7 linked regions of the Homo sapiens genome follow. The protein of the gene in region 1 purifies or fractionates together with the protein of each later gene. This does not show direct contact. Each region holds a gene or a part of one and is shown in the gene's direction. Other genes may lie near its edges.

Evidence for each region.
Region 2: the proteins of BCAN (region 1) and FGFR1 purify together in Homo sapiens (affinity purification with mass spectrometry; one large-scale study listed by BioGRID and IntAct). This does not show direct contact.
Region 3: the proteins of BCAN (region 1) and ZDBF2 purify together in Homo sapiens (affinity purification with mass spectrometry; one large-scale study listed by BioGRID and IntAct). This does not show direct contact.
Region 4: the proteins of BCAN (region 1) and SEMA3B purify together in Homo sapiens (affinity purification with mass spectrometry; one large-scale study listed by BioGRID and IntAct). This does not show direct contact.
Region 5: the proteins of BCAN (region 1) and ULK3 purify together in Homo sapiens (affinity purification with mass spectrometry; 2 studies listed by BioGRID and IntAct, with this or other methods). This does not show direct contact.
Region 6: the proteins of BCAN (region 1) and GUSB purify together in Homo sapiens (affinity purification with mass spectrometry; one large-scale study listed by BioGRID and IntAct). This does not show direct contact.
Region 7: the proteins of BCAN (region 1) and CTRL purify together in Homo sapiens (affinity purification with mass spectrometry; one large-scale study listed by BioGRID and IntAct). This does not show direct contact.

The regions. Positions count from the first base shown.
Region 1 is NC_000001.11:156,648,617-156,652,116, forward strand, and holds part of BCAN (brevican core protein isoform 1 precursor), read left to right. Parts: coding exon 1-245; intron 246-2,839; coding exon 2,840-3,073; intron 3,074-3,500. UniProt on the Homo sapiens protein: May play a role in the terminally differentiating and the adult nervous system during postnatal development. Could stabilize interactions between hyaluronan (HA) and brain proteoglycans.
Region 2 is NC_000008.11:38,427,136-38,430,635, reverse strand, and holds part of FGFR1 (fibroblast growth factor receptor 1 isoform 1 precursor), read left to right. Parts: intron 1-687; coding exon 688-954; intron 955-2,200; coding exon 2,201-2,290; intron 2,291-2,542; coding exon 2,543-2,715; intron 2,716-3,500. UniProt on the Homo sapiens protein: Tyrosine-protein kinase that acts as a cell-surface receptor for fibroblast growth factors and plays an essential role in the regulation of embryonic development, cell proliferation, differentiation and migration.
Region 3 is NC_000002.12:206,302,163-206,305,662, forward strand, and holds part of ZDBF2 (DBF4-type zinc finger-containing protein 2), read left to right. Parts: intron 1-2,554; coding exon 2,555-3,500.
Region 4 is NC_000003.12:50,275,097-50,278,046, forward strand, and holds the end of SEMA3B (semaphorin-3B isoform 1 precursor), read left to right. Parts: intron 1-205; coding exon 206-363; intron 364-463; coding exon 464-519; intron 520-608; coding exon 609-748; intron 749-1,205; coding exon 1,206-1,610; 3' UTR 1,611-2,450; downstream 2,451-2,950. UniProt on the Homo sapiens protein: Inhibits axonal extension by providing local signals to specify territories inaccessible for growing axons.
Region 5 is NC_000015.10:74,835,618-74,837,887, reverse strand, and holds the end of ULK3 (serine/threonine-protein kinase ULK3), read left to right. Parts: intron 1-89; coding exon 90-137; intron 138-452; coding exon 453-519; exon of another isoform or gene 520-525; intron 526-643; coding exon 644-660; 3' UTR 661-1,770; downstream 1,771-2,270. UniProt on the Homo sapiens protein: Serine/threonine protein kinase that acts as a regulator of Sonic hedgehog (SHH) signaling and autophagy.
Region 6 is NC_000007.14:65,965,214-65,968,713, reverse strand, and holds part of GUSB (beta-glucuronidase isoform 1 precursor), read left to right. Parts: intron 1-806; coding exon 807-983; intron 984-3,500. UniProt on the Homo sapiens protein: Plays an important role in the degradation of dermatan and keratan sulfates.
Region 7 is NC_000016.10:67,929,074-67,933,040, reverse strand, and holds CTRL (chymotrypsin-like protease CTRL-1 precursor), read left to right. Parts: upstream 1-1,178; 5' UTR 1,179-1,188; coding exon 1,189-1,240; intron 1,241-1,839; coding exon 1,840-1,943; intron 1,944-2,041; coding exon 2,042-2,121; intron 2,122-2,233; coding exon 2,234-2,315; intron 2,316-2,452; coding exon 2,453-2,633; intron 2,634-2,722; coding exon 2,723-2,856; intron 2,857-2,945; coding exon 2,946-3,107; 3' UTR 3,108-3,467; downstream 3,468-3,967.

The DNA.
Region 1 (3,500 bases):
ACGGGCGTACTGCCAGGAGCGGGGTGCAGAGATTGCCACCACGGGCCAACTGTATGCAGCCTGGGATGGTGGCCTGGACCACTGCAGCCCAGGGTGGCTAGCTGATGGCAGTGTGCGCTACCCCATCGTCACACCCAGCCAGCGCTGTGGTGGGGGCTTGCCTGGTGTCAAGACTCTCTTCCTCTTCCCCAACCAGACTGGCTTCCCCAATAAGCACAGCCGCTTCAACGTCTACTGCTTCCGAGGTGAGCCCACCTCCCTGCAGAAGCTGAGACCAATCTCAGAAAGGCAGAGTTGAGTCCTAAAAGTCCTACCCCAGTCTGATCAGTTTAGCTCAGGGCTTTGCCATTTGCCTGAAGTGGTCGTGGGTGAAGTCCAGCTTGTCATCTAGGGTTCTAATTCTGGGCATGCCCTCTGGTGTGGTGTCTGTCAGCTGTTTGGCCCAAGGAGTAGTCACCTTTTGGCCTCTCCTTATCTGCCTTCCCACCAGTAGTCCATGCCTTGTTTGCTCCAGCTGGGCTGCTGAATAAGCTCCCATCTCCTGTCAGCTTATTGGCAGAGCAAAGACGACCAACATTCTGTGAATTCAATGAGTAATCTGCCCAAGTTCTTCCAGTCAACAACCAAATGCCCTCAGGAGCCCTCTGGAGGATTTCCAGAAACTACAGCTTAAGAAGGTGTCAGATCTTTAACTACCAAATACTGGTGGATGGATACAATTCCCCCAAAAGGGAGCAAGACCTTAAGTACAGTTGGGAATAGAGATAGCTTTCTGCCCACATCTTATGGCTTGTTTCTTTTTTTGAGACAGGGTCTCACTCCGTCCCCCAGGCTGGAGTGCAGTGGTGTGATCATGGTTCATTGTAGCCTCAACCTCCCTGGGCTCAGGGGATCCTTCCACTTCAACCTCCGGAGTAGGTGGGACCACAGGCTTATGCCACCATGTCTAGCAAATTTTTGTAATTTTTGTAGAGATGGGGTTTCACCACATGCCCAGGCTGGTCTTGAACTCCTGAGCTCAAGCAATCTACCTATCTTGGACTCCCGAAGTGCTGGGATTTATAGGTGTGAGCCACTGCACCCAAACCTGCCCATATCTTATGTTGGGAGCTGGAGCGGGAGGCAGTTTCTGGGACTCTCAGATGCAAAAGGCCCAGGCCAAGGGTGACCGACAATAAGAGAGGCATTGCCATGCGGTGTCTCGGTCCTTCCCCAGTTTTAAGCCTGAAATACTGTTACAAGAGCTGGAAGCAGAAATGGAAGGAGCAGACACAGCCTTGAACCTCAGGGAGCACTTGGTCTGAAGGATGAAGACACAGCTTTTGCCATGGGAACCCCCAGCAAAGGGAAGACAAGATGCCTCACTCCCAGGATGAGGAGAGACTGAGAGAAAAGCATTACTTCCATTTGGACAGATCTGTGGACATATTTGGCTGGGGTTGGGGAGGGGTGGGGAAGTAAAAGTCCATAGGAAGACAGGTCCATCTGAAAAGACCTCCTGGAACAGGGGTAGTAGTAGTAGTAGTAGTAGTAGTAATAATAATAATAGTAATAGCTAAAACTTCTGTGTGCTGGCTATGATTGTGTGCCAAGCCAAGCACTGTTTTGGAAAGAAATGGCCTGGATCATGAGGAGGGGCAGGGGAGGGGGAATATGACTACAGTTGGGACTACGATTGGTGGAGGACACAGGCAGCAAGGACACAAGGTCTGGTGAGGAGTAAGGCTCACTGGAGCAGGTGATGAGGGCAGGGACTCACTGTCCTGTCTTGCCTGGCTGAGCACAGACAGCCCTCAGGACTTTTCTTAGCCCAATTCCACCTTCACTTCATTGGTTTTCTGCTCTTGGCTCCCTTCCCCAGAGGACAAGTAAACCATTCTAAACTTCTGGTTATTTGAAAGGAGTAGGTCCCAGAAGGAGGTGGCCTTTTCCCTTGCCTACTTGCCCCACCACTGAGATCCTCAGGTGATGCCTGAAGTTATTCCTGCACTCTGCCCTCCAGCTATCCTGAGGGGATGACAGCCTCTCCCCTTCTATTTCAAGAATTTTGGAGGCTCGGTGCAGTGGCTCATGCCTGTAATCCCAGCACTTTGGGAGGCCAAGACCACTTGAGGCCAGGAGTTCGAGATCAGCCTGGCAAACACGGGGAAACCCTGTCTCTACTAAAAATACAAAAATTAGCCAGTTACGGTGGCACATGCCTGTAGTCCCAGCTACTTGGGAGGCTGAGACGGGAGAACCGCTTGAATCCAGGAGGCGAAGGTTGCAATGAGCTGGGATCGTGCCACTGCACTCCAGCCTGGGTGACAGAAGGAGACTCTGTCTAAAAAATAAAAGAATTTGGGGATACCTGGGACACCTCACACCTTGCCCCAAGCCCAAGATCACAAGGTGGTAAAGCTATTTCATCCATCCTGCTGGCTCCAGCCCCTCCCCCTAGGGAATATCTCTCACCTGAGCCTTTCCTGACCACTCCAAAGTAGTATTTTCCATCACTCCATCTTCTAACTCTGCTCAAGTGTTCTTTATCTTGTAAGATTATAATATATGTTTGTTTGTCATCTGTTCTAGAATATAATTTCCCTTGAGGGTAGGAGGTTTGCTATTTTGTTCTGCACTGTATCCTCAGTGCCCAGGGGAATGCTTGGCATGACACACTGTAGGCACTTGATGAATGCTTGAGAAATGAGTGACGAAGTTCTGGGATGCTCCCTGGGCCCCAGTAGGTGCTCCACAGGGAAGATGTGAGAGAATTGAGAGAATTCCATGGTGCAAGCTGTGACCTGGGAGGGCAGAGCTACCTATTCAGGCTCGCATCAATACTTTCCTCCTGCCACAGACTCGGCCCAGCCTTCTGCCATCCCTGAGGCCTCCAACCCAGCCTCCAACCCAGCCTCTGATGGACTAGAGGCTATCGTCACAGTGACAGAGACCCTGGAGGAACTGCAGCTGCCTCAGGAAGCCACAGAGAGTGAATCCCGTGGGGCCATCTACTCCATCCCCATCATGGAGGACGGAGGAGGTGGAAGCTCCACTCCAGAAGACCCAGCAGAGGCCCCTAGGACGCTCCTAGGTAAGTCGGATCCCTTATCCTAAGGATGTCTTGATTGAAAGAAGTTGGGGGCAGAAGAGGCAAGCCCAGGTTGATGCTAGGGTGATGGATGACATGACTCTGCCCTGTCCTTTCTCAGTAGCTCAGGGGTGCAGGGCACCTTTCCTGTCCCTCTCCCAACCTTTGCTTTTCCAGTAAATTCCACCCCCAACTCTATGGAGCTAGAGATGCTTGCACTAAGGAGCTGCGCCCTGGAAAGGTGGAACCTGCCTTCTTTGGTCCCTCTTCCGCCTCACACACCCAAAACAGACTAGAGTTTTGACAGAGTAGGAGGGAGACAAATGACCATGTTCTCCGGGGCTAATGATGGCTCACAGAGCCTTCTCAAGTGTTGCCTCAACAATATGGCTGGGGTCAAGTTCTTCCAGTGTGGCGCAAGGACCACCTG
Region 2 (3,500 bases), on another chromosome or scaffold:
CGTCCTAATATAGTCAACAGCTCCAAATCCCCTGCCCTGACACCTGTTAGCGAGAGGTTCCCTGAGCTGACCTCTCCTTGGGCTGCCCCCCCAGCATGTGCATCTGACGCGTCGAGGGCCAGACCCCCACCCTCTCCGAATCACACGCATCCTGGTCAGCCCCCAGTTGACAAATTGCCTTCTCTCGACTTGGGCAGGGGCTGCTGGGGTTTTGAGGGGCGGGGTTTGTTCAGCTGTTGCTAGGGAAGGGTGAGGCTGAGCTATCCCAAAGGAAATGGGGTGTTCCTCTGGCAAGTGGCAATCTTGGCAAAGAACTGAGCATCTGGGGAGGGGGCAACTCCGGACACAAAGAAGTCCTGGGGAGGGCCGACCTTTCCCCTTAGGATGGGGGAAATGAAATGCGCTTAATGCTGCTACAGCTGCTTCCTAACTTTGCCTCTTTCTTCCTTTGACTTTTGGAGGAGTGGGGTGGAAAAGAGATGGGGGTTCCCAGGCAGCCAGCTGTTTTCCCCACTGACCCATGCTCCAATTCCCACTGCCCTGGCTCAGTAGCCTCCAGTAAGTGATGCCCAGGATGGTGCGGCTCCGTGTGGCCAGCGTAATTCCCTTTGTCTCTCCCCTCCTCCCCTCTCCCTGTCTTCCTCTCTCGCCCCTTGGCTTCCCTTCCCGGCCCCGTGGTGGCTGCAGCCCAGCCCTGGGGAGCCCCTGTGGAAGTGGAGTCCTTCCTGGTCCACCCCGGTGACCTGCTGCAGCTTCGCTGTCGGCTGCGGGACGATGTGCAGAGCATCAACTGGCTGCGGGACGGGGTGCAGCTGGCGGAAAGCAACCGCACCCGCATCACAGGGGAGGAGGTGGAGGTGCAGGACTCCGTGCCCGCAGACTCCGGCCTCTATGCTTGCGTAACCAGCAGCCCCTCGGGCAGTGACACCACCTACTTCTCCGTCAATGTTTCAGGTTGGTAGCCAAGCCCTGCCCTTGCCCCTCCCTAGACCCACCCCCTCCAGCCCTCTCTGCCAGTTTCAGAGGAAGGTGAACCTCCTCCCCCTCCGTGATCTGCCCCCACTCTGCTTCAGAAACTGCTGCCCACTAACATTGCTCCCTGCCTGCCGCGTGGCTTGGCTCTCAGAGAGGTGACTAGGTGGGGTGGGCCCCAGGGCCGGAGATCTGGGGCTTCCAGGACACACCTCGGAGGTGATTGCCAGGGCTCTTGGGATGTTAAGACCCTGTGATTTTTTTCCACCACAGCTTGCCCAGATCTCCAGGAGGCTAAGTGGTGCTCGGCCAGCTTCCACTCCATCACTCCCTTGCCATTTGGACTTGGTACTCGGCTTAGTGATTAGAGGCCCTGAACAGGTGGTGGTATCCCTGCTCTGCTGGAGAGGAACCCAGGTGCACCGCAAGGGAGCTGTGCGAGGGCAGCCAGGGAGCCCTGGAGCTCTGTGAACTTGGGAACTTGCCACTCTTAGAATGTGACTTTCACAAAACTAGGAGTTGAGGAAGTGGAGCTGAAATTTTCTTTATGCCATTTATGCACCTCAGGGTGTGGACTTGGCAGCAGATCCCCAAAGGTGATAGGAAGGACTGGAGAAAGATCTGGCATGAACCCTGATGGGTGACCACATGTGTATCAAGCGTGTTCTTACAAGAAATAAATACTTATTGGGGAGAGGTGTTGGCAGCTGCTGGGGTGGTGGGTGCCCTATCTGCTCTGATTAAGGAGGGCAGCCCCCAAACCTTAGTAGACACATGCTAGAAAAATTCTGACTGTGGGGTGTTTAGCCCATCCTTTGGAAATAGCATCTAGCCACAGTGTGTCTAGACCTGCCTGGGTTTCCCTATAGTCAGCCGTCCAAAGAAGAATACAGGTTGCCTGGCTCCAGCACACCCAGGTGGCACCACAAGTTGAGAAAGCGCCTTTGAATGTAGGACGGAATTAAGTTAAATAGGAACAGCTGACCCTGATGGAACCACCCAGTGTGAAGGCTTCCAGGCAGTGGGGGCAGTGCTTCGGGGAAGGAAGCAAACACGCACAGGAACTGTTCTTAAACAGTTTCCATCCCACCAAGAGATCATCACTAAGGGAGCAGTGGGACTGGGATCCCCATGGGGAGGGTGTCCGTGTTCATCTGGAACTGCACTAGCCTTGGTGAAATCTAGGGGTCCCTAGGAGGAACCTCAGTGCCCCTTCTTCTTCCCATAGATGCTCTCCCCTCCTCGGAGGATGATGATGATGATGATGACTCCTCTTCAGAGGAGAAAGAAACAGATAACACCAAACCAAACCGTATGCGTGAGACACTGTTTCCTATCTTACTGCCCTTTGGGTCTGGGCATTGGGTTTAAGAGGGGAGGGGAAGGCTGAAAGGGGAGGAAGAGGAGGGCACATGGGGTCACGGTGCCTGTTCTGCTAAGTGCCAGGCACTGCTCACAGGTGTTGGGCAGATGGGCAAGACACCTCCAGGTCCTGGCCTGGGCCCTGCTCCTGAGCCTGACCAGCTGCTCCTCTCCACCCTGCCTGTCTCTCTTGGCTTTCCCCGGGCAGCCGTAGCTCCATATTGGACATCCCCAGAAAAGATGGAAAAGAAATTGCATGCAGTGCCGGCTGCCAAGACAGTGAAGTTCAAATGCCCTTCCAGTGGGACCCCAAACCCCACACTGCGCTGGTTGAAAAATGGCAAAGAATTCAAACCTGACCACAGAATTGGAGGCTACAAGGTACGTGTGTGTGCATGCGAAAGTTAGAGTAATGGGAACAGGGGAGGCCGAGTTAGGAAGTCCTGATTACATGCTTTTCATTTTTTTAAGTAATACTTTCCACCTATACAGGTTATTCATTAAAATTTTTAAATACAAAAAAATGCAAATAAAGTTTAAACATTTCTTCAGTCTTCTTTCTGTAATATGGTTTTTACATAGTTGATCACATCATGTATGTAATTTCCTTGCCTTGTCATTTGTTAACATGAGTCTTTTCCTGATATATTTCAAGCATGAATATTTGAAACATAATTTTTCATGACTGTATAAGATTCCATTATTTTAAAATCCCATAATTTGGCTGGGCATGGTGGCTCACGCCTAAAATCCTATCACTTTGGGAGGCCGAGGTGGGCGGATTGCCTGAGCTCAGGAGTTCGAGACCAGCCTGGGCAACATGGCGAAACCTCCTCTGTACTAAAAATACAAAAAATTAGCCATGTGTGGTGGCAGGCTCCTGTAATCCCAGCTACTGGGGAGGCTGAAGCAGGAGATTGCTTGAACCCAGGAGACAGAGGTTGCAGTGAGCTGAGATCACGTCATTTCACTCTAGCCTGGGTGACAGAGTGAGACTCTGTCTCCAAAAAACAACAGAAAAAGTCCTATAATTTAATGAACTATTTTGTGATATTAGGTATTTTCTGGTTTTTCACCATAATAAATAATGTTGCAGTGAATCTCTGTCAGCATTTTTTTAAGCGTGCTTCCTTAGGACAGATTGTTACAAGTGAAATTACTAACTT
Region 3 (3,500 bases), on another chromosome or scaffold:
CATGCCTGGCTTATTTTTTAAATTTTTTGTAGAAACAGGATCTCATTATGTTGCCAAGGCTGGTCTCAAACTCTTGGCCTCAAGTGATCCTCTCACTTGAGTCTTCCAAAGTGGGGGGATTACAGGCATGAACCACCACACCTGGCCAAAAGAGTGGTTTTTAATCTTTAATGGTTAGATTTTTAGAGAGCTTTTTTTGTTGTTGTGTGGTTACAAATGATGAGTTAAATGTGGATTATGATTTAATTGTTAAGCATATTATACACACACAAATACAGATGCAGATCAAAGCATCCAGATGGCAGTTCATGACCTTCTTGGGATTTTACCAGCTGTATGATTTTATGATTATACCTTCTTTTCTTTTTTCCCTTTTCTTTCTTTTCTTAGCTACATATTGCACAATTGGTTTTATTTTGAGAATGTTGTGATAGTCCTTAAGACAAATGAAGATAGTTTAGGGTTCTGAAAAACTAGAGTGAAGTGATTGTTGCACTGCAGTGTCATTGTTGAGAAGTATGAAAAATTAGAATTGTTTTTTGCTGCATCACAATACTTTTGATGCAGGGTTAACTTTATTTTCTAAATTCAAAATTAATATTAAGGTAATAAATTTATATGGGATAGTAATACTTAGGCTAAAATGAAATTGCATATGGCTGACACATGTATGCATGTTCTCTTAGACAAATGACATCTCAAATTGGAAAAATTCAATAAATTTTTAGGTGTTTATTTTTAATTGTTATAGGCTATTTTTATAAACAAACAGTTTTAGATTAATGGAAACAATGAGGAAATAGTACAGAGTGTGCCTATAATACTCTCTCACACAATTTCTCTATTATTAACATTAATGTGATATATTTGTTATAAGTAATGAACTGATATTAGTACAGTCCATGGTTTATTCAGACTTCTTAGTTTCTACTTAAACTAAGTTTTCTTAAACTAAGATTTCCTTAGTTTTACTACTTTTTCTGTTTCAGAATCACATCCAGGATACCACATTACATTAACTTGTAATGTCTCTTTAGGTCCCTCTTGGCTGTGACAGTTTAATCTTTTTTTTTTTTTTTTTAAACAGGTCTAGATGTGATGATACTTATCTCTTTGAATTGTTATTATTTTTTATGTGTCTGCCTTCTGCAGCTACTTGAATGGTCTTTAAAAGGCAGCTTAACTTTTTTTGAATTTGCCTTAGTACCTAGCATAGTGCCTGTAATGCAGTAGTAAGTCCTTAGTAGATGGTTGTTACATGAATGAATGTTTGCCCGACTTTAAGAATTCAGGCCATGGCAATATCATTAGGTCAGTTGGTTTTATGTACATGAAAGAACAGTCCCTGAAATGCTTTGGTCAAACATGTTGTCTTGATACTGGTAGAAGAGATTCATAGACTGATTTTAGATATGAAAGTTTTGGGTCTTTTTAAAAATAATGGAATTTAAATTTTGAATGGGAAATACATATACATAGACATAATTCACAGTGCACGTTCAAAAGTAAGTCTTCTTAAATTGCTGCCATCCTGTAGTCACTTCCCTAGAGGTAACACTTGACACCTCTAGACTTCTACAGTTGTATGTGCCATTCTCCAGATATTCTAAGTGCATTATTTTTTTCCCTTCTATTTTACATAAATGGTAGCTTTCTGTGTACCCTTGCTTTTCACTAACAATGTTTATAGTAATTGGTTTTTATTTGTATATATAGAGCCGCTTTATTATTTTTAAAAACCACATTGTATTCCATTAAATACCATTAATTATTTAACCAGTACCCAGTTACTGAGTATTCAGGTTGATTCTAGTCATTTGCTATTACCCCTCCCTCCGCTCAAAAGTAGCAGTAACTATTCTTGTACGTGTTCATTAAACACATGAGAAAACCAAAAGTGGAATTAGAGGTCAAAGGGTATGTACATTCTTAATTTTAATAGACATTGCCAAATTGCTGTTTGTAGAGGTTACAAATCTACATAGAGGTTAACCAGTAACTGTTAACTGATCTATATTCCTATGAACAATGTATTAAAGTGCCTTTGTCCTTACACCCGCACCAAAACAATGTGTTAAGATAATAATAGCTAACATTTGTGAATGCTTACTGTGTGCCAAGCTGTTTCTTTGTTTTAATGCTCTTTACATGTAACAATTAATTTACTCATCAAAACAATCTCATGAGGGAAAATAGTGTAAGATTCCCTTTTTTTGGAGGCAGAAACTGAAGCATACAAAGTTAAGTAACATATGTCAAACTTTTTGCTATTTACTACTCTGATAACTGAAAAATAATATATGATTTTATTTGTTTAGTTTTTCATGTTTAGGGGCCATTTGTATTTAAGTAGCAATTGGTGGAGCCACCTCCACCTTCTGCAGTAATTCCCCCTCTGTGGTCCATGCAGTGTTCAGCCTGGGGTGACTGCCTGGATTCCTTGTCCTTTAAGGATAGTCCAGAACAGAAAGCAAATAACATTTATTATGCCTCTATTTTAATATTTTAAACAGACATTAGAATATGTTTATGAGTTTCCCCCCTTTCGTTTTAGTTCAACACAAGATGAGACACATGTGAATACTGGGTCATCGTCTGAAGTGGTGCATTTGGATGATGCTTTTTCTGAAGAAGAGGAAGAGGATGAGGATAAGGTTGAGGATGAGGATGCTACCGAAGAGAGACCATCCGAGGTTTCAGAACCTATTGAAGAGTTACATTCCAGACCTCATAAATCTCAGGAAGGCACGCAGGAGGTTTCAGTTCGACCATCAGTTATTCAAAAACTGGAGAAGGGACAGCAGCAGCCCTTGGAGTTTGTTCATAAAATTGGGGCCAGTGTGAGAAAATGTAACCTAGTAGATATTGGTCAGGCTACAAATAATAGAAGCAACTTGGTACGCCCCCCAGTGATTTGTAATGCTCCTGCTAGTTGTTTACCTGAAAGCTCTAACGATAGACCAGTTACAGCTAATACAACTAGTTTACCACCAGCAGCTCATTTGGATTCAGTTAGCAAATGTGACCCAAACAAAGTTGAGAAATATCTTGAACAGCCAGATGGGGCCTCTAGAAATCCTGTGCCATCATCCCATGTAGAAACTACTTCATTTTCGTATCAGAAACATAAAGAATCAAATAGGAAATCTTTACGCATGAATTCAGATAAGTTGGTTTTGTGGAAAGATGTAAAATCTCAGGGTAAAACTTTATCAGCTGGCTTGAAATTCCATGAACGCATGGGTACTAAGGGCTCCTTAAGAGTTAAATCTCCTTCCAAATTAGCAGTAAACCCGAATAAAACTGACATGCCTTCTAATAAAGGAATCTTTGAAGATACTATTGCAAAGAACCATGAGGAATTCTTTTCTAACATGGATTGTACCCAAGAAGAAAAGCATTTGGTTTTTAACAAGACAGCCTTTTGGGAACAGAAGTGCTCAGTGAGTTCTGAAATGAAGTTTGATTGTATCTCTCTTCAGTCAGCATCTGATCAGCCC
Region 4 (2,950 bases), on another chromosome or scaffold:
GTGCCTGGCGCGTCCCAAGCCTCTGGCCCCTTTTGGTAGTTTGCAGTCCCGGGTTTGAGTACAGGCTCTGGCTTTGTTAGACTGTGTGACCTGAGGCGTAAGACCTCAGTGTTCCCATCTGTCGAGTGGAAGAAGGGATCCCTGACCGATGGGAGGCAGGCGTGGGGTCGCCCTCGGTCAGCCCAGAGCCCCTCGTGCCCCCTAGCACCAGCTGTACGTAGCCTCGCGGAGCGCGGTGGCCCAGATCGCGTTGCACCGCTGCGCTGCCCACGGCCGCGTCTGCACCGAATGCTGTCTGGCGCGTGACCCCTACTGCGCCTGGGACGGGGTCGCGTGCACGCGCTTCCAGCCCAGTGCCAAGAGGTGGGCGGGGTCGGGGTTGGGCCGCCGGGAGGGAGGCGAAGGGTCTTTCACTGCCCGGGGCTGAAAGAAGGGCTCACAGAAGATCGGATGTTCCCCACAGGCGGTTCCGGCGGCAAGACGTAAGGAATGGCGACCCCAGCACGTTGTGCTCCGGAGGTGAGTGCCCCAGCTGCCCCTACCCTCAGCCCCAGAAGACGCCCCACCTGCCCTGCCTTGCCTAAATCTGACTTTCTTCTCGCCCCAAGACTCGTCTCGTCCCGCGCTGCTGGAACACAAGGTGTTCGGCGTGGAGGGCAGCAGCGCCTTTCTGGAGTGTGAGCCCCGCTCGCTGCAGGCGCGCGTGGAGTGGACTTTCCAGCGCGCAGGGGTGACAGCCCACACCCAGGTGAGCCTTACTCCGCCCTCCCCGCCAGGCTCCTGTCCCACCCCCTGCATCCAGGAGAGGCCCCGCCCTACCCAACGAAGCCCCGTCCAACCAGACCCACTCCCCGCCCTGTCCAGTTTGGTCCCTCACCTGCACTCCACAAGCTGCTGAGGCCCCATTGCGTCCAACGGGGCTCCCGACCCGCCTCCCCTGAATCAAGGAGAAGACCCGCCCTCGACCCTCCCATTAAGGTCCCTGACCACCCCCCACCAAGTTCATGTAAACCCCGCCTCTTTCGGATTCTCCCTTGAAGACCACCAGCTCCCAAACACTCAGCCTTAAAATGTGCGCCTGCGGGCACCCCTTTCCCGCTCCACCTCGGCTCCCAATGACTCTTTGCTTCTTCCGTCGCGTGCTAGGGCCCGGAAGCCCTGTTCCCGGCCCGACACCCCCGCCTCACGCTGCCCTCTGCCCGCAGGTGCTGGCAGAGGAGCGCACCGAGCGCACCGCCCGGGGACTACTGCTGCGCAGGCTGCGGCGCCGGGACTCGGGCGTGTACTTGTGCGCCGCCGTCGAGCAGGGCTTTACGCAACCGCTGCGTCGCCTGTCGCTGCACGTGTTGAGTGCTACGCAGGCCGAACGACTGGCGCGGGCCGAGGAGGCTGCGCCCGCCGCGCCGCCGGGCCCCAAACTCTGGTACCGGGACTTTCTGCAGCTGGTGGAGCCGGGCGGAGGTGGCAGCGCGAACTCCCTGCGCATGTGCCGCCCGCAGCCTGCGCTGCAGTCACTGCCCCTGGAGTCGCGGAGAAAGGGCCGTAACCGGAGGACCCACGCCCCTGAGCCTCGCGCTGAGCGGGGGCCGCGCAGCGCAACGCACTGGTGACCAGACTGTCCCCACGCCGGGAACCAAGCAGGAGACGACAGGCGAGAGAGGAGCCAGACAGACCCTGAAAAGAAGGACGGGTTGGGGCCGGGCACATTGGGGGTCACCGGCCGATGGAGACACCAACCGACAGGCCCTGGCTGAGGGCAGCTGCGCGGGCTTATTTATTAACAGGATAACCCTTGAATGTAGCAGCCCCGGGAGGGCGGCACAGGTCGGGCGCAGGATTCAGCCGGAGGGAAGGGACGGGGAAGCCGAGCTCCAGAGCAACGACCAGGGCCGAGGAGGTGCCTGGAGTGCCCACCCTGGGAGACAGACCCCACCTCCTTGGGTAGTGAGCAGTGAGCAGAAAGCTGTGAACAGGCTGGGCTGCTGGAGGTGGGGCGAGGCAGGCCGACTGTACTAAAGTAACGCAATAAACGCATTATCAGCCAAAGCTGGAATGGCCCCAGCAGAAAACCCCAGTCCTCGGCCTTGCTATGTGGTCTTGGGCACCTTACTAGCGGTGTCAGGGCCCGAGTTTCTCCTGTCCAAGGTTGCCTGGTGAGGATTAAAGGTGGTTCCGGCCAGGCGCGGTGGCTCACGCCTGTAATCCCAACACTTTCGGAGGCCCAGGCGGACGGATCACGAGGTCAGGAGATGGAAACCATCCCGGCTAACACGGTGAAACCCCGTCTGTACTAAAAATACAAAAAATTAGTCGGGCGTGGTGGCGGGCGCCTGTAATCCTAGCTACTCAGGAGGCTGAGGCAGGAGAATTGCTTGAACCTGGGAGGTGGAGGTTGCAATGAGCCTAGATCTCGCCGCTGCACTCCAGCCTGGGCGACAGAGCGAGACTCCAAAAAAAAAAAAAAAAAAAAAAAAAAAGGTGGTTCCGCGTGACTGAACAGGTTCTGTAGGGCCTTTGGGAATAGTGACACGCAGGGTACATTGTGCATAATATAACTTCAGGACTAAGTGCTAGGAAGAAAATAAAACTGGACCGGGCGCAGTGGCTCACGCCTGTAATCCCAGCATTTTGGGAGGCCGAAGCAGTCGGATCATGAAGTCAGGAGTTCAAGACCAGCCTGACCAACATGGTGAAACCCTGTCTCTACTAAAAATACAAAACTTAGGTGGGTGTGATGGCACGCGCCTTTAATCCCAGCTACTCAGGAGGCTGAGGTAAGATAATTGCTTGAACCAGGGAGGCAGAGGTTGCAGTGAGCCGAGATCGCCCCACTGCACTCCAGCCTGGGCAACAGAGCGAGACTCTGTCTCAAAGAAAAGAAAACTGGGTGATGTGGAAAAGAATGTACACAGAAGGCCTCACTGAAGGGGTGGCATTTGAGTTCGCTGAC
Region 5 (2,270 bases), on another chromosome or scaffold:
GAGAGCATCAGGGGTGAGGAGGAGTTCCCTTTGAAACCCCACCCCCCGCCACTCTCCCCCACACCCAAGGGCATATCTTTCCTTGGCAGGTTCAGAACCTCATGGCCCGAGCTGAATACTTGAAGGAGCAGGTCAAGGTGGGCACATGGGGGCCACGCTGGGGCTAGGGTCTGTGGGTTCTGTTGCTCTCTGCTTGTGGCTGTCGTCCCCCCCTGCTGGTGTATGTCTGCTCTCTCGCCTCCTCTGCAGGCCTCCCTGTCCCTGTATCTGCCCTTCACTCTCTCTCTTGCTCGGCACTGCGCTGTGGCTCGTGTCCCCGTCCTTCACTCTCTCACTTGCTCGGCACTGCGCTGTGGCTCGTGTCCCCGTCCTTCACTCTCTCACTTGCTCGGCACTGCGCTGTGGCTCGTGTGTCTGCCTCTCATCCCTTGTGCTGCCTTCACATCCCACAGATGAGGGAATCTCGCTGGGAAGCTGACACCCTGGACAAAGAGGGACTGTCGGAATCTGTTCGTAGCTGTGAGTCCTGCCCTGGGGTCGATCCTCCATCCAAGGAGGGGTGAGGGCTGGGGGCCCTGGGTTCTGCCTCCCTTACCAAAGACCTGAGACTGACCCTCCCCCATTGTCCCCCTCACCCCCGTAGCTTGCACCCTTCAGTGACCCTAGAAGAATGATTGGACAGATGTGAGCCATCTGGAGCAGAGGGGCACTAACCCAGGCTGACGCCAAGAATGAAGTGGCCCACTGCAGCCCTGGCGAGCAGGCTTCTTGGATGGACAGTGCTGAGACCCCCATATCCCAGAGTCCCCAGCCTCCCTCAGGTTACTCTGCACCCCACAGATGGTTTGATGGCTGTGCTGTATACTGGAGGGGAGGGCAGGACTCTGGGAGAACAGCACTTCTTTCATGAGACCTTTGTTACTCGGTGGTTACTGGGTCCTGTGCCTGTCCGTTTTGGGGCATGCAGCCCTCTATCATTTTTGGCTCCGAGAAGAGGGCAAGGGGCCCCCGCAGGGTACTTCTGTGCTTGCCCTCGCCCTGCCAGCAGGCAGCTGTGCCCCTGGCCTGCCCTTCCCGGGACCCCTTATTCCAACTCAGCTCCTCTTTGCACTGGAATGGGGCACTCCAACACCCCTCAGGGACCACCCTCCCCACAGTATGCACTCAGCCCCACAGAACCCACCAGTCTTTCTGGGAACTCACACCTGCCCGCCATCTTGGTACTTTAGGTTAATCCCTCAAGCATGAAAGCTGGATCTTTTGGGGTTTAAGAAGCCCAAGCCTTGTTCCTGCCCTGGCCTAGGGAGCACTCAGGAGGGTTCCTTGGTCCTCATCTCTCCCACCTCCGTTCCCTCTGGGCCCCACACTAGCCACAGCGCGGGCCTTGTGCTGGAGTTTGAGCCTGGGACAGGGAGAGGGAGGCTTGGAGACAGTCTGACCCAGTGCCCTCTAGGCCACCCACTTCTAGGCCTGCCCTGCCGCCGTGGAGCCCTGGGCAAGCTCTTTCCCCTTTCTGGGCCTGGGTCTCCCCATCTCTTCAATGGGGCTGATACCTTCACAGCCCACAGCATGGGCACTTATGAGGACAAAGTGAATTTAACCTGGAAAAGAATGTATTTGAGAGTTTCTTTTAAATAATCAGCGGGTGTTGGTGATTTGTAGCCCTTCTGCCCTTAAATGCTTCCTTGGGCAAGAGCTGTCTGTCCTCCCTGCAGGAGGCTGAGTGTAAAGAGTATCATTCATTGTTTCTCTATTAAATTATTTTCTCTATTTGCGCGTCTCTTCTTGCCTTAAGAACGACAGGAGAGGTGGCCGCTGCCCACAGGCTGGGGCAAGAAGGACTGCAGCAAAAGCTGCGGAAGCTGAGGTAGGGCCGGAGAGGTCGCGAGATGGAGGGGAATGCTGAGAATGATAGCCACATCTGCCCTCAGCCCCCAGAGATCCAGGAGAAGGGCTGACCAGGGTCATTGCTGCCCACACCCAGGCGACCGGTGGGGAGAGGAGCACAGGCCTGGGAGCTGGGAAGGCTCAGCTCCAGGAGTGCAATCTTCCACCATGCTCTGCCCTCCACACCGCACACTGTCTCACCCCAGACAGGATCTCTTGGCTTCCTTCCCTCCCTTACCCTGGGCCACTGAGGGAGCAGTGAGCTGGACTGGAGGAAAGGGCATGTTTTGAGGTATCATGCTCACACCCAGCCCCCAGGGTCTCCATTTCCAGCAGGCTCTGTACCCTGGCCTTCCCCCAACCCCACGTACACCCCAGGTGTC
Region 6 (3,500 bases), on another chromosome or scaffold:
TCGGGAGACTGAGGCATGAGAAGCACCTGATGGTGGGAGGCAGAGGTTGCAGTGAGCTGAGATCGCACCACTAACATTCTAGCCTGGGCGACAGAGCGAGACTCTGTCTCCAAAACAAAACAAAAGATTTTCTGTGAGAATGACTGCATCGGCCCCTCGGGTGGCAGCGCTTCTCCAGGGCAAGGTGAGGGGAAGCCCAGTGATGGGAGTGCTGCCTGGAGAGGAGTCAGTTCCAGTGGTGGGGGCCCTGGGCTTTGGCTGAGGGCTGTGCGTTGGCAGCTGCTGTGCCTCTCACAGCCCTTCCCAGCGGCGCACGTCATGAGTGTCAGTGTGGAGTCCCAGGCCTACCTCCTCTGGGCCACTTTGTGACCATGTTTCTTGCCTATGGCAGGGTAATTTCAGGATCTAAATTGGTACACTTGGACGTTCTCAGCCCCAGGAGGCAGCTGTTCCCGTTCTAGGTTTTTTTTTTTTTTTTTTTTTGGTAGAAATGGGGGCTTGTGATGTTGCCCAGGCTGGTCTCGAACTCCTGGGATCAAGTGATCCTCCCATCTTGGCCTCCCAATGTGCTGGGATTACAGGCATGAGCCACCGTGCCCTGCTAATTTTCTTACTACTATTTTTTGTAATGCTGCAGTCTTGCTGTGTTGCCCAGGCTGGTCTTAAGCCATCCTCCTGCCTCAGCCTCCCAGAGTGCTGGGATTACATCCCCCTTACCTTCTCTGCCAGAGGAGCCCCCGCAGTGTGTGAATGCTGAGTCATGCTGTCTACTGAGTGCTGAACGGGCTCTGCTGCTCTGGTCCTAGGCTCCGTATGTGGATGTGATCTGTTTGAACAGCTACTACTCTTGGTATCACGACTACGGGCACCTGGAGTTGATTCAGCTGCAGCTGGCCACCCAGTTTGAGAACTGGTATAAGAAGTATCAGAAGCCCATTATTCAGAGCGAGTATGGAGCAGAAACGATTGCAGGGTTTCACCAGGTAAGCAGTGTTGAGCTTTCTGCTTGTGTGTTCTCTCAGGGCAGAGATGTCACTCACCTCCTCCAGCCTGACCTGCGCCCACTGCACTGCTCCCCTCGCTTCAGCTTTGGGCTCTCCTCCCACGGCCCCGTCCACGTTCCCTCACCGCCAACAGCCAGGCCTGTGCCCCACTCACTTGGTCCTCAGAGGTGGCCTCCTTACTGGCTTTGTTTCCAGATAGCCTCCTATCACCCGTGCCCAAGTGGTCTTTCTAACAGATCCAAATTTGTATTTGTTTTTGAGACCGGATCTCTCTGTCACCCAGGCTGGAGTGTGGTGGTGCGATCACTGCTCACTGCAGCCTTAACCTCCTGGGCTCAAGTGATCCTCCCACCTCAGCCTCCTGAGTAGCTGGGACCATAGGCACATGCCAACACGCCTGGCTAATTTTTTTACTTTTGTAGAGATGGGGTCTTGCCATGTTGCCCAGACTGGTCTTGAACTCCTGGCCTCAAGTGATCTGCCTCAGGCTCCCAAAGTGCTGGGATTACAGGTGTGAGCCTCTGCACCAGCCACAGTTGAAAATTTTGGGAGTCCTGTCATTGGCTCCCCCAGGCCCACAGGACAAAGCCCTAACCTCTGGTCAGGACACTCAGTGTCCTCTGCTCTCTCCTGGGTTTTCATCCCCTTCTCCCCTCTATCCCAGCCACTGATCTGTTTCCACTGCCCTCGCTTGCTCTCCTGCTCTTGCTTGAGCTGTTTCTTCTGCCTGGAATGCCCATGTTGGCACCATAATCACCAACTAAAATATCCTTTTTCTTAATTTTCATATTTTAGATATAGGGTCTTGCTATGTTGTCCAGGCTGGTCTCAAACTCCTGGACTCAATTGATCTTCCTGCCTTGGCCTCCAAAAGTGCTGGAATTACAGGCATGATCCACTGTGCTAGCCTTTTTTTCTTTTTCTTTTTTTCAGGGTCTTGTTGTGTTGCCCAGGCTGGAGTGCAGTGGTGTCATCATAGCTCACTGCAGCCTTGAACTAAAGGGCTGAAGTAATTCTTCCACCTCAGCCTCCTGAGTAGCTGGGACGACAGGCATGAACCACCATGTGCAGCCTATTTTTAAATTTTTTTGTAAAGATGGAGTCTATCAGGCTGGTCTAGAACTCCTGGCCTTACGTGATTGTCCTGCCTCAGACTCCCAAAGTGCTGGGAATCCAGGCATGAGACACCATGCCCAGCCTGTCGTCATTTTTTTAATCTATCTCATTTTTTTGTCCTCCTCACCAAAGATATGTTGGTTTGTCTTGTGAGGTTTTTTTTTTCCTGTGGATTCCTGAACCCCATCCAGCCCCTCATTCCCACCCCAGCCAGCTCACACTTGTTTGTCACAGCTCCTGGTTGACACACAGGGAACAGCCACCCACAGTGGACTGCGCTGTTCTGTTTGCACCCTTAAATTTATCGTGCTTACAGAATGCCACTTCTGCAAACTAGTCAAGTAGGGGAAGTGGCTCTTGGATATATTTGCTTGCGCATCCTCTTTGAAAAGGTAACCAGCTCTGAATTCTTTTTTTTTTTTTGACACAGAGTTTCGCTCTCGTTGCCTAGGCTGGAGTGCAGTGGCGCGATCTCGGCTCACTGCAATGTCCACCTCCCTGGTTCAAGCGATTCTCATGCCTCAGCCTCCCGAGTAGCTGGGATTACAGGCATGCGCCACCACGCCCACCTCATTTTGTATTTTTAGTAGAGATGAGGTTTCACCATGTTGGTCAGGCTGGTCTTGAACTCCTGACCTCAAGTGATCCGCCCGCCTTGGCCTCCCAAAGTGCTGGGATTACAGGCATGAGCCACCGTGCCAAGCCCTAGCTCTGAATTCTTAAGAAACTCTTGAGAGGGTCTAGGTCAGTGCTGATAGAACCTCTGCAGTGCTGGGCATGGTGGCTCACACCTGGAATGCTGGCACTTTGGGAGGCCAAGGTCAGAGGATCTCTTGAGCCCAGGAGTTTGAGACCAGTCTGTGCAACATAGACCCCATCTCTACAAAAAATTTAAAATTAGTTGGGCATGGTTATGAGTGCTTGTAGTCCAAGCCACTTGGGAGGCTGAGGTGGGAGGATTGTTTGAGCCCAGTAGGTCAAGGCTGCATTCAGCTATGATTGCACCACTGTACTCCCACCTGGGTGACAGAGTGAGACCTTGTTTCAAAAAATAAAAAAAAACAAACTTGCAATGATGGAAATGTTCTATATTTGCACTGTCTGAAATGGTACACACTAGCTACACATGGCTACTGAGGTCTTGATATATGACTAGGATAACTGAATTGATTTAGTTTAATTAAATAAATTTTTTTGAGACAGCCTCACTCTGTTGCCCAGGCTGGAGTGCAGTGGCATAATCACAGCTCACTGCTCAACCTCCTGGGCTCAAGCGATCCTCCCTCCTTAGCCCCAAGTAGCTTGAACTGCAGGCGTGCGCCACCACACCTGGCTAATATTTTGACTTTTTGTAGAGACTGGGTCTCACTGTGTTGCCTA
Region 7 (3,967 bases), on another chromosome or scaffold:
CCATCGCCCAGGCCGGAATGCAGTGGTGCACTCATGGCTCACTGCAGCCTTGAACTTAAGGGCTCAAGTGATCCCTCCTGCCTCAGCCTTCTGAGTTGCTGGGACTACAGGTGTGTACCATCATACCCAGCTCATTTCTTAATTTAAAAAAATTTTTTTTGTAGAGACAGGGTTTCATGATGTTGCTCAGGCTGGTCTCGAACTCCTGGAATCAAGCCTCCTACGTCTGCCTCCCAAAGTTTTGGGATTACAGGTGTGAGCCACCACACCCAGCCCTGATCTGTTCTTGAATCAGTTAAAGCCCTCACACTCCCAGAAGGCCGCCAGCCAATGCACCTGTTGGAACTTTGCACACAGGGTGTCTTCTCCCTTCAAGCTTGGTCTGCAGCTCAGTAACAAATGGGCTACAGACACCAGGGGCTTGCCCATGGGAGCCCCAAGGCCTAAAGAGGGTGGCAGAGATTTGATGTCTGTCACTCTCCACCTGCAGCCTCAGTCCACGGTCGGCCAGGCACCAAGAGCTCACACTTTGCCCTCCTAAATGCCAGGCCCTTCATAAGTATCATCTCATTGTTAAGAGCGGAGGCTTCAGCGCCAGACAAATGCGAGTTTGTGTACAACTCAACCACGTGCTGGTGGGAGAGTCACCATCTCTGAGCAGACCTGTGACTCCTGTTCCAAATGGACGAGGAACCACTGCGATGATGTGTTAGGACTCCCAGCCTGCCAGAACCTCACAGCCCCTGGCCCTTCACAGCAAAGTTGACCGCAGTGAGCATTCCATCCACCAGTCAGAACACCCTGGACGCTGAGCGGCCTTCTCTGAAAGCCTGGTGCCTTTGTTAGCCCTGGGTGACTCCTGTGATCCCAGCCACCAGGTTGTCACTATAGACCTAATTTAACCATCTGTCCTCAGTACCGAGGGCTCAACATTTGGAATGGGAGGTGGTTCTGGGAGCCAATTAGAGGCCAGGCTTTGGGAGGTGGCAGAGGTGAGTCTCACACCTGGGCTCTGTCTGATAAGTCTAGGTCTCGGTCAGGGGACCTTGGCCTAAAGGGCCTGTCTTGCCTGGAGCGTGGGAGGGGGCTGAGTCTACACAGCTGGCCTGGCCTCAGGCCTGGAGCTTTAGCTCAAGGACGAGAAGACCCATAAAGCCAGACCCAGCTCCCAACCTCACATCTGCCACGATGTTGCTGCTCAGCCTGACCCTAAGCCTGGTTCTCCTCGGCTCCTCCTGGGGTGAGTGGGCCAGGACCAGCCCTGATTCAGCCCTGGGAGCAACTCAGCTCCCAGCAACAGCCCAGGGAAGGAGCTAGGCTGGCTGGAAGGGACGAAGGTGGACAGAGTGGGCAAAAGAAACAGGATATGCCAGGGCAGTGGAGCAGGGAACAGGCCTGCAGGGCTGGGAGGGGGCAAGAGGTGGGGTGGTCTCACAAATAGGACCAGAGATTGAGCCAGGCCCTGGAGCCCGGGAGGGTTTAGGAAGCTGAGACAGGAAGACCTGTCCATGTCTTTTAGAAAGAACCTTCTGGCTGCATGAAGGGTATGAACTGTTCAGGTCGGGAGGGGGCAGAGAGACCAGGGGTAGAGATGGGGAACAGCGGGGACTAGGCTGGAGACAGATGTAGGAGAACAGCAGGGCTGGGGGACTGGGTGGATAGGGATAACCAAGATAGCTGTGGGGCCCGAAGGTGCTTGCATGTACCCTGTTGGGGAAGGGGTAGTGCTGTACCCTCTCGACAGACCTCTCTGGGGTGCACAGCCTGGGGCACCCAAAAGGAGGTGGGGAAAGATGGGCTGAGGCATGGGAAGCAGGTCCTCATTAGCCCAATGGCCAGGCTGCGGCATTCCTGCCATCAAACCGGCACTGAGCTTCAGCCAGAGGATTGTCAACGGGGAGAATGCAGTGTTGGGCTCCTGGCCCTGGCAGGTGTCCCTGCAGGTACACCACCAGAGGGGTGGGCAGGGTCCTGGGTACGTCATGCCTAGGGGCAGCCTCAGCAGCCCACCCCCACTCTGACCTCTGAGCCCTGACCACAGGACAGCAGCGGCTTCCACTTCTGCGGTGGTTCTCTCATCAGCCAGTCCTGGGTGGTCACTGCTGCCCACTGCAATGTCAGGTGAGTGCCTGCATTCCACCTGCCCCGCCCCTCGCCTCTTCCTGCCTCCTCCCCTGGCTGTCCCCCTCTCGCGCTGGCCTCCCTGCAGCTGCCTAATCCCACCCCCTTGCAGCCCTGGCCGCCATTTTGTTGTCCTGGGCGAGTATGACCGATCATCAAACGCAGAGCCCTTGCAGGTTCTGTCCGTCTCTCGGGTGAGTGCCTGGGCTGCAGACACGGAGGAAAAGTGGGCAGTGCAGGTGGGTGGGTGCTGGGAACGAGGAATTCAGGACATGCCCTGGCCTACCCTGCTCAGCACCCATCAGAACATGGACTGTTTCTGACCCCACAGGCCATTACACACCCTAGCTGGAACTCTACCACCATGAACAATGACGTGACGCTGCTGAAGCTCGCCTCGCCAGCCCAGTACACAACACGCATCTCGCCAGTTTGCCTGGCATCCTCAAACGAGGCTCTGACTGAAGGCCTCACGTGTGTCACCACCGGCTGGGGTCGCCTCAGTGGCGTGGGTAGGGACTCAGGCCAAAGCTCAGGGTGGGAGGACTGGGGTGGGGACCAGTGTTCTGGGCCCCATGTGACCACCCCTCCTGGCCCACAGGCAATGTGACACCAGCACATCTGCAGCAGGTGGCTTTGCCCCTGGTCACTGTGAATCAGTGCCGGCAGTACTGGGGCTCAAGTATCACTGACTCCATGATCTGTGCAGGTGGCGCAGGTGCCTCCTCGTGCCAGGTAAGCCCCAGCACCCGCTCCTCTGCGCTGTCCTGTGGTATACCTCCCCAACCCCCCCTACTCAATTCTCCCTCCCTCTTCCCTCTCAGGGTGACTCCGGAGGCCCTCTTGTCTGCCAGAAGGGAAACACATGGGTGCTTATTGGTATTGTCTCCTGGGGCACCAAAAACTGCAATGTGCGCGCACCTGCTGTGTATACTCGAGTTAGCAAGTTCAGCACCTGGATCAACCAGGTCATAGCCTACAACTGAGCTCACCACAGGCCCTCCCCAGCTCAACCCATTAAAGACCCAGGCCCTGTCCCATCATGCATTCATGTCTGTCTTCCTGGCTCAGGAGAAAGAAGAGGCTGTTGAGGGTCCGACTCCCTACTTGGACTTCTGGCACAGAAGGGGCTGAGTGACTCCTTGAGTAGCAGTGGCTCTTCCTAGAGTAGCCATGCCGAGGCCGGGGCCCCCACCCCTCCTCCAGGGCAACCCCTTGGTCCTACAGCAAGAAGCCAGAACTGTTGGAATGAATGGCAGCCCTCCCTGGAGAGGCAGCCTGTTTACTGAATACAGAGGATACGTTTACAAACTGAATACGCATAATAAATAACTGCACATTCTCCATCCACAGGCCATGGCATGAAGGCCCAAGTGGGTCTATCAAAGGCCCACATCTCCAAACCCCCTGTCCTGCCCTCAGGACCAGGCCCACCCTGGGCAAGAGAGAACGTAAGCCCCAGGGCTTCAGGTCCCCAGAGACACTTGGGGAACTGGGGGGAAATTCTGAGGCCATGGGGCTTGGTTCTCCACTGCCTCCTGCCCAGGGGGCATTGGGGACGGTAGGAGGATGTGTCTAAGGCATAGTCGACTTGGCACAGAGTGGTCTCTTTAGTTTTGTTTCCCACTGGAGGTGGCACATGCAGGAAAAGGGCCTGGCCCAGGCTGCCGACCGGCAGAAGCTGAGTGGGAACCAAACCCTCCTGCAATGGCAGGGGCCCTGCCGTCAAGCTAAGGCCAAAGCTGGGCCCTGGCCCCATTCTACCCACTGAAGGCAGCTGTGGAGGAAGGGGCTTGGGTTCCAGCCTGGTTTGTGGTAGGGGGAGATACCACAAAAGAAATGGGGA